2 separate regions of the Homo sapiens genome follow, and region 2 is linked to region 1. The links come from fine-mapping of genetic effects on gene expression. A gene starts in region 1. The other region holds a variant in brackets. All regions are shown on one strand. Distances are between the middles of the regions.

Region 1 (4,380 bases):
TAAATTGTATAGTGCATAATTTCCTAATAAAGCTGTACAAAAATTATTTTAAATCAATCATAAATATAAAAGGATTGATTTCATAATGTAACGTAAATCAGCTCAAAATCTTCTCTGAATCCCCATCATGCTTTGAAAATCAAGTCCCCGCTTGCGGGCCGGTGCAGTGGCTCACGCCTATAATCCCAGCACTTTGGGAGGTCAAGGTGGGCAGACAGCCTGAGGTCAGGAGTTGGAGATCAGCCTGGCCAATGTGGTAAAACCCCGTCTGTACTAAAAATACAGAAATTAAGGCCGGGTGCGGTGGCTCACGCCTGTAATCCCAGCACTTTGGGAGGCCGAGGCAGGTGGATCACGAGGTCAGGAGATCGAGACCATCCTGGCTAACACGGTGAAACCCCGTCTCTACTAAAAATACAAAAAATTAGCCGGGCGAGGTGGCGGGCATCTGTAATCTCAGCTACTTGGGAGGCTGAGACAGGAGAATCGCTTGAACCCGGGAGGCAGAGGTTGTGGTGAGCCGAGATCGTGCCATTGCACTCCAGCCTGGGCAAGAATAGCAGAACTCCATCTTAAAAAAAAAAAATAGGCCGGGCGCGGTGGCTCACGCCTGTAATCCCAGCGCTTTGGGAGGCCGAGGCAGGCGGATCACCTGAGGTTGGGAGTTTGAGACCAGCCTGACCAACACGGGGAAACCCTGTCTCTACTAAAAATACAAAATTAGCCCGGCATGGTGGCAGGCGCCTGTAATCCCAGCTACTCGGGAGGCTGAGGCAGGAGAATCGCTTGAAACCAGGAGGCGGAGGCTGCAGTGAGCCGAGATGGCACCATCGCACTCCAGCCTGGGTGACAAGAGTGCAAGTCTAGCTGTGCCTGCAAGCTGCCTGCACCCTGGGCCTTTGTCTGTCTCACTTAGCTGCCTGCGTACCTTTCCCCCACCGGCTTCCTCCCTTGGTTTATGCTCGTCTCCTGCAACGGCCCCCCACCCGCCCTCTTGCCCTCCGTGTTTCCTCCGCTCTGCACAGTCTCATGCCTGGCCTGTCTCTTCCAGTCAGACAGGAGGGCAGGCCTAGAACAGCACGAGCCCTGCAAATACGGATGGATACACAGAAGCACGGGAGAAAGGAAGGAGGGATGGAAGGAGGAATGGATGATGGATGGATGGGAGGGAGGAGGGAAGGAGGGGGGAAAGGAAGAGAGAGGCATGATGGATGGATGGGTGGATACATGGAAGGAGGGAGGGAAGGATGACGGGTGGAGGGAAGGAGGGAGGTTGAAAGGAGGGATGGATGATGGATGGACGGGTGGGTGGAAGAATGGGAGGAAGGAGGAATGATGGGTGGATGGACTGGCGGAGGGAAGGAAGGGGGAACGAAAGGAGGGAGGGAGGGATGGATGATGGACCCATGGGTAGAGGGATGGATGATGGATGGGTGGGTGGAAGAATGGAAGGAGGAATGATGGGTGGACGGACGGGTAGAGGGAAGGAAGGGGAGATGAGGGAGGGAGGGAGGGAGGGAGGGAGGGATGATGGACCCATGGGTGGAAGGAAATAAAAATGGGAGGAAGGATGATGATGACTGACGGCTGGATTCCTACCTCTGTCCATCTTCTTGGGTCCCCAACTCATCAAGAGCCCCTGTCACTCAGTCCAGCTGGAATGCAGGGGAGCCGCCACCCACCTCCCTTCTCCCTCACTGCTGGGCACCTAGTCCCAGCCAAGCCCTTGGTGGTGGCAGGCAGCCAGCGGGGATCGAGTCCCAGCTCTGCCCTCCCAGCTGGGCAGTCCTAGGTCAGCATCTCCTTCGCCAAGTCTCAGTCTCCTACTCTGCACCTCGGGTGTGAGCGTGACCCCTGCCTTCTGGCTGCTGCCGGGAGGATGGGCGAGGTGAGCCGGTGGACACCACACTCTCCCACGGTCCCGGGATGTCCACTCGGGGTGAAGCGTGAGGAGCTCGGGATGCCCCAGGCCTCAGTCCCCCTCCAAACAAGGATGAATCTCCGCTCTTACACCCAGGATGTCGGCGCCCGCGCCCACCCCTCCCATCCAGGGACCCACCGAGAGCGCTGGGCCTCAGTGTCCCCCCTGCATCCCGGCTCCCACTCACCTACTGACAGGGCCCCCAGGGCCAGCACCAGCAGTGAAGACACGCAGGCCTCCATGCCGCTGTGGAGACCCAGTGTGGGTGCTGGCCCCGGCCCCGAGCCTCCCCACACGCGCTTCCTGTGGGGGAGGTGAGGTGACGGTCACAGCCCCGCCCACCGCTGCACACCCTCCACCCTCCATCCTTGAGCATTTTAGAAAGTGTTTCTCAAAGAGGACTCGAGATGAAGCCACACTACCATCATCACACCTGACAAAGTAACACTTTTTTTTTTTTTTTTTTTTCAGAGATGGAGTCTCGCTCTGTCGCCCAGGCTGGAGTGCGGTGGTGCGATCTCGGCTCACTGCAAGCTCCGCCTCCCGGGTTCACGCCATACTCCGGCCTCAGCCTCCCGAGTAGTGGGACTACAGGTGCCCACCACCACGCCCGGCTAATTTTCGTATTCTTAGTAGAGACGAGGTTTCACCATGTTGACCAGGCTGGTCTCAAACTCCCGACCTCAGGTGATCCACCCACCTCGGCCTCCCAGTGCTGGGATTACAGGCATGAGCCACCGCGCCCGGCCACTACTTCCTGCCTCTGAATTGGTCTCTAGGGACCTCCCAGGAGTGGAATCACACAGGACCTGTTGCGTTGGCGTCTCTCCCAGCATGACGTCCTCAAGGTGCATCCAGGCTGTGGCCTGTGTCAGAGCCTCGCTCCTTTTTGTGGCTGTGTCACATCCCATTGTGTGGCTGGACCACGCTGTGTTTATGCATTCACCAGCGGACGGATATTTGCGCTGTTCTAGTTTTTGGTCTTCATGAATAAAGACACTGGCCGAAGGCGGTGGCTCACACCTGTAATCCCAGCACTTTGAGAGACTGGGGCAGGAGGATCGCTTGAGCCCAGGTTGGGGCTGCAGTGAGCCGTAATTGCACCACTGCTCTTCAGCCTGGGTGACAGAGCAAGACCCTGTCTCAAAAATAAATAAATTTAGGCCGGGCGCGGCGGCTCACGCCTGTAATCCCAGCACTTTGGGAGGCCGAGGCGGGCGATCACCTGAGGTTGGGAGTTCGAGACCATCCTGGCCAACATGGTGAAACCCCATCTCTACTAAAAATACAAAAATCAGCTGGGCATGGTGGTGGGAGCCTGTAGTCCCAGCTACTCAGGAGGCTGAGGCAGGAGAATCACTTGAACCCAGGAGGCGAGATCGCACCACTGCACTCCAGCCTGGGCAACACAAGACTGTGTCTCAAAAACAAAACCAAACCAAACCAAGCAGCTATGGATGATCCTGAGACCTGGGTGTGGCTGTGCCAGTAACACTTCACTCACAATAGGGGCGGACGCCAGGTTTGGTCCCGAGGGCCATGGTTTGCTGAGACCCCAGGGCCCCATTTTCTGTCCCAACTTGGTGGGAAACCTCATCCTCACAGCTCCTCGACCCTGAATCAGCCACTGAGCGACTTTCCGGGTGCCCAGAAGCGGAACGCAGGCAGGTTCCTGGAAGGCGGTGCCCCGGGAGGGCATGGGAGCTCCGAGCTTTCCTCCATGACATGTAATAAAACGATGCTGGGGACTTCCTGACACCAGGACGTGAGGTGCCTGCCCTGTGTGCCCAGGGCCACGGCTCCCCACCCCGAGGGTGTGCCTGGACGGAGCTGGAGCCGCCGGAGTGCTGATCGGGGGCATCTGTGGTCCTGGGAGCCCTGAGACGCTGAGATCAACGCCCAGGCGGCTGTGGACCCGCGACGAAGCTTTGCTGGATGCCTGCAGAGGCAGCTCCCGTCCCACTAGATGCACCTGGTCACAGGGAGGAGGAACTCTGGGGGCTTTCTGGCCGCCCCTGTCCCGCAGGCTGGGGGATGCTGCCCAGGCCTGTCTGACCCAAGTCATGGGAACGTACAGGCCGCGGGACCCGGCTGCTCCCCGTGCCTCCCAGGACAGGCCTCCCAGATCCACACCTGGCGTAGCCAGGGTCCCAGTGGGACTGGCCGTGTGCAGTCACTCATGGACGTGGAGGCTGCCTCTCCCTCCCAAGCACAGCTTCTCTGGCCTCTCATAAAGTAGTTTTATTTAGATTTCAAACAAACCAAAGCAGGGAAAAGAGTCGGCCACGGTGAATCCGTCCACTCTGTGCTGGACGTGGCTCCAGGACCTGGAGCTGACAGGCAGGACCGGGCCCCTCGGACCGCTACACCTGGGCCTCCCAGGCTGGTAGTGTCAGGAAACGGCCCCCCGCCCACGTTCCCAGCAGCGCCCCCGTGGCTCCTCCGGGGTGCGGCCAGTC
Region 2 (4,380 bases), 28 kb before region 1:
GGAGTGCAATGGCGCGATCTCGGCTCACTGCAAGCTCCGCCTCCCTGGTTCACACCATTCTCCTGCCTCAGACTCCCTAGCAGCTGGGACTACAGGCGCCCGCCACCACGCCAGGCTAATTTTTTGTATTTTTAGTAGAGACGGGGTTTCACCGTGTTAGCCACGATGGTCTTGATCTCTTGACCTCGTGATCCGCCCGCCTCGGCCTCCCAAAGTGCTGGGATTACAGGCGTGAGCCACCATGCCCGACCTCTTTTTTTTTTTTTTTTAAAGACAGAGTCTCCCTGTTACCCAGGCTGGAGTGCAGTGGCATGATATCAGCTCACTGCAACCTTCACCTCCCAGGTTCAAGCGATTCTCTTGCCTCAGCTTCCTGAGTGGCTGGGATTACAGGCGTGCGCCAACACGCCCAGCTAATTTTTGTATTTTTAGTAGAGATGGGGTTTCACCATGTTGGCCAGGCTGGTCTTGAACTCCTGACCTCAGGTGATCCACCCGCCTCAGCCTCCCAAAGTGCTGGGATTACAGGTGTGAGCCACCACGCCCGGCCTCACTATAAATCTTTAACCCAGAACCAAATGGGGGTCTCAACAAAGGAAGAAATTTTCTATGAAGCAAGAAAGGATGTCATGCTTTTCTCCCGGAAAAACACACCTCAATCCATTTCCCAAATGCGCTCTCCAAACCACGTTTGCCCACCCTCAACACACGGCCCTCCTAAGACAGCACTGGAAACCGAATGCGGGTCAGAGTCGGCTAAAAACGACTTTCTCACTATTTCCTGCGCTGAATCGGGTGGCCAGGGCCCCCTCACTGTGACCTTGGAACCTCGACTTCCCACAGGGCTGTTTCCTCGCCTGTAAAGGAGGAGGGGCGTTCAGAGACCACCTCATTCTGGGTGCTGAATCCAGGCAGAATCAGAGGGAGATTCCGCCTTCCCTTCCACGCAGGGCCCCTCGAGGGAGCCTGCGAGGTCTTAAGAGTCTGGGAGAACACCCGGGGGCAGGTGCACGCCCTAGGCAAGACGCCAGGGCTAAATCCCGTGAAGAACGGTAATCCCTTCCCGATCCGGAGGGCTGACCCACTCAGAGCCTCCATGTGCTCTTGGAGGACAAAAGCCCCTTTTCCAGAAGGGAGCGCCAAGATGATCGCTCCAGGCCGCACGGGCCCTTGCGGGGGCCCCAGAGAGTCTCAGGGGAGGGTCTCTGACCCTAACACTCGCAGGCAGGGTGGACCCGTCTCCAGATTCCACGCCCAGGCCGCTTTCCCCAGGTCCTGCGGAGTCCAGCCCCAGCAGGACGGGTTGGGCAGGCACCAACCAGCCCCTGACCCCTGGCTCCAGGCCAAAGGGGACGCTCACCCAGGCTTTGGGTCTCCCTTCTCCTGGCCGATGGGACCGGCGGGCGGGCCACCTCCAACCGCCTTCGCAGACGCCCTCACCCAGGAAGCAGGTCACCCCCAACCCCAGGTGACCGAAAAGCAAGACGCCCACCTCCCCTGACCAAGACCGGCCTGGCCAGGACCCCCTGGCTCCCGCCTCCAAGCAGGGAGCTTCACGCCCACACACAGAGGCCGGGCTCGAGGCCGGAGCGCCCGGGGGAGCCCGGCAGGCCGCGCCGGGAGGAACCTCTAGTCCCCCCTCAAACCCTGGGACTTCACCCCCAAGCTCCATGCTGGCGCGGGAAGCCCCCGGGGCCGGCCTTTCGCACCCCAGGCCGCCCCGCGCCGAGGCCCCAGGCTCCCGTCGGCTTCGGGTCGGCACCGCGGCCTCCATTCCCGGCCCCTGCAGGACCGCACCCCCGCCCCCTACCCGCTCCTCACCAGCCCCGGAGGCTCCGTGGGTGCCCAGCAGCGCGAATCCCAGCAGCACGAACAGCGCAGCCGCCATGATTCCTATTCCTCGCCGGTCCTACAACCTCCAACCGCTGCCGCCGCCGCCCGCGGCCGCTATAAAAAGCGGCGGAGGCGCGGACCGGGCGCGCGCACGCACGGCGTCATCTCGGGGGCGGGGCGAGCGCCGGGGACGCCGGTCGCCCCGCCTGCGCACGCGCGCACACGCTCGCATGTACGCGCCGGCTCCGGCAGGCTCACGCTACGGAATCCGGGCGGCGGCGCACGTGACCCGGCGTTGCTAGGAAACGGGAGTGGGGCCTGCGGGGACGCGGCTGGAGCCTGCGCATTTCTTCCTTCCTGCTTTCAAAGTTG[C/G]AATGAGCGCAGAGCGGTGCGCCCGAGGGGGTTGAAGCGTTGAAAGTGTGTTACCCAGATTTTATCTGAGTTAAACACGGGCCGGCCGCTGTGGCTCACGTCTGTACTCCCAGAGCCTTGGGAGGTCGAGGCGGGAAGATCGCTTGAGCCCGGGAGCTCGAGACCAGACGCGGCAACATGGCGAGACGCACATCTCTGCCTTTAAAAATGTACATATATATATATATATATGAACGTATTAATAAATTAGGTGGGAGGAAGTGACCTCCTCCGCCCAAATAAAAATACTTAAAGGGCACTTGAATCTGGATCTCAGAAAATGAATAATTTCTTAGTATAAACGTCCTGTGCACCATTTGGTTGGGACAAGTAAGTTCCTCTTCAGAAACTCAACTTCCAGGTCTAAAGTTGTCAATCAACCTTACCCCCTTCTTCTTTCCTCGCAGGTGGCGCGTTTACCCTATTTTAAAAAAGTTTTAAGTTTTAGCCAACCGGGATCAGCTTAGATTGTGGGCGTCCAACCCCAGCCAACAGGGAAAGGACAGAGGAACAGAAGCTCCCTTCCTTTGTCCCGTGTGCTCTGGAGATTGCATCCCACGCAGGCAGCCCCCTTCCGTACAAGTAAAGTGGTCTCGCTGAGAAATTTTCTAAGTGCTGGTTTCTCTTTGCGGGACCGACTCGCCGCCCCCAAATATCCCATTTGGATCCCATTCTGTTTCAGGAGAGGCTGGCGGTTACCTTTCTTGGGGAGACGCGTCCGACTGCTTCATTGTGGGGGCCTCAGGAGCGGAGGATCGGGTCCCGCCCGAGGTGACGCGTAAACCCAGACTCTCAGCAACGCGGGTAGGAAGGACCCTTGAAGTTCCGCGGCGACCACGGTGAGAAAAGTCGCTATTGGGGCGACACAGGTGGGGGCGTCTCTTGGAGGTTGAAAGTGTGTGTTGGAAGTTAAACTCGGAGTCGCAATGCAAGAGGACCGCAGACTAAGCCGAACGCGAAGGGCTAACTGGAAAGGGGCAGGAATGTGGCTACACTGGCGGGAAGAGCCCGTGGCGACGGGAGGGGGATGTGCAGAGTGGGTGGCAGGTGCCATCTCTGCAGATCAGGACCGGCGGGAAACTTGTTTACTGAGACTCAGACGGGGAGGCCCAGAGGGTGAGGAAGTCAGGTTGGCCTTGGAAGTAGGAAACGAAGAACGAGGGCGCTGAACGAGCCAAACCTTTGAAGAGGAACTTGTGAATGAATGAGACGCGCCATATCTTTTGTGTGTGTGTGTGTTGGAGTCTCGCTGTGTCACCCAGGCTGGAGTGCAGCGGCGCGATCTCGACTCTCTGCAACCTCCGCCTCCCGGGTTCAAGCGATTCTCCTGCCTCAGCCTCCTGAGTAGCTGGGATTACAGGCGCGCACCACCACGCCCGGCTAATTTTTGTATTTTTAGCAGAGACGCCCCATATCTAAAGAAGGGTGGGATCCTCTAGACCACCTTCCCCCACTCACCCCTCCGCCCCTCCCAACCCACCCCCTCCGCCCCTCCCAACCCACCCCCTCCGCCCCTCCCAACCCACCCCCTCCGCCCCTCCCAACCCACCCCCTCCGCCCCTCCCAACCCACCCCTCCGCCCCCCCCACCCACCCACCCCACCCCTCCGCCCCTCCCCAACCCGCCCCTCCGCCCCTCCCACCCACCCCTCGCCCCTCCGCCCCTCCCCCACCCGCTCCTCCGCCCCTCCATCCCTCCCCTATAGAACCACCTGGACCTTGCCACCCACATCCCCGCTGGACAGCCACTAGAACATGCCCCTTCCTCAGGAAAGCTCCAACGGGAAACAGAACAATGCCAAAGGGATATTCGAAACTTTCGGCCGGGCGCGGTGGCTCACGCCTGTAATTCCAGCACTTTGGGAGGCAGAGGCGGGTGGATCACGAGGCCAGGAGTTCAGGACTGGCAGCCTGGCCACGATGATGAAACCTCGCCTCTACTAAAAATACGAAAATTAGCCGGACGTGGTGGCGGGCGCCTGTAATTCCAGCTACTCAGCTACTCGGGAGGCTGAGGCAGGGAATGTCTTGAACCCGGGAGGTGGAGCTTGCAGTGAGCCGAGATCGCGCCACCGCACTCCAGCCTCGGCAACAAGAGCGAGACTCCGTCTCAAAAAACAAACAAACAAACAAAAAC

Evidence for each region.
Region 2: its variant is fine-mapped to the expression of GZMM in whole blood (INTERVAL, PIP 0.97).

What each region holds. Positions count from the first base shown.
Region 1 is chr19:541,855-546,234 of GRCh38, reverse strand. It overlaps GZMM (granzyme M), which reads right to left and starts at 2,182. Exons shown (of 5, transcript NM_005317.4): 1 at 2,109-2,182. The coding sequence starts at 2,163. It overlaps CDC34 (cell division cycle 34, ubiquitin conjugating enzyme), which reads right to left. Exons shown (of 5, transcript NM_004359.2): 5 at 4,148-4,380. RefSeq lists an enhancer at 2,169-2,814.
Region 2 is chr19:570,143-574,522 of GRCh38, reverse strand. BSG (basigin (Ok blood group)) reads right to left here and starts at 1,927. Exons shown (of 9, transcript NM_001728.4): 1 at 1,822-1,927. The coding sequence starts at 1,888. BSG-AS1 (BSG antisense RNA 1) reads left to right here and starts at 2,275. Exons shown (of 3, transcript NR_184018.1): 1 at 2,275-2,414; 2 at 2,927-3,083. RefSeq lists silencers at 1,587-1,766, 1,937-2,156 and enhancers at 2,977-3,026, 3,107-3,679. The variant C/G (reference allele first, on the strand shown) is at 2,206.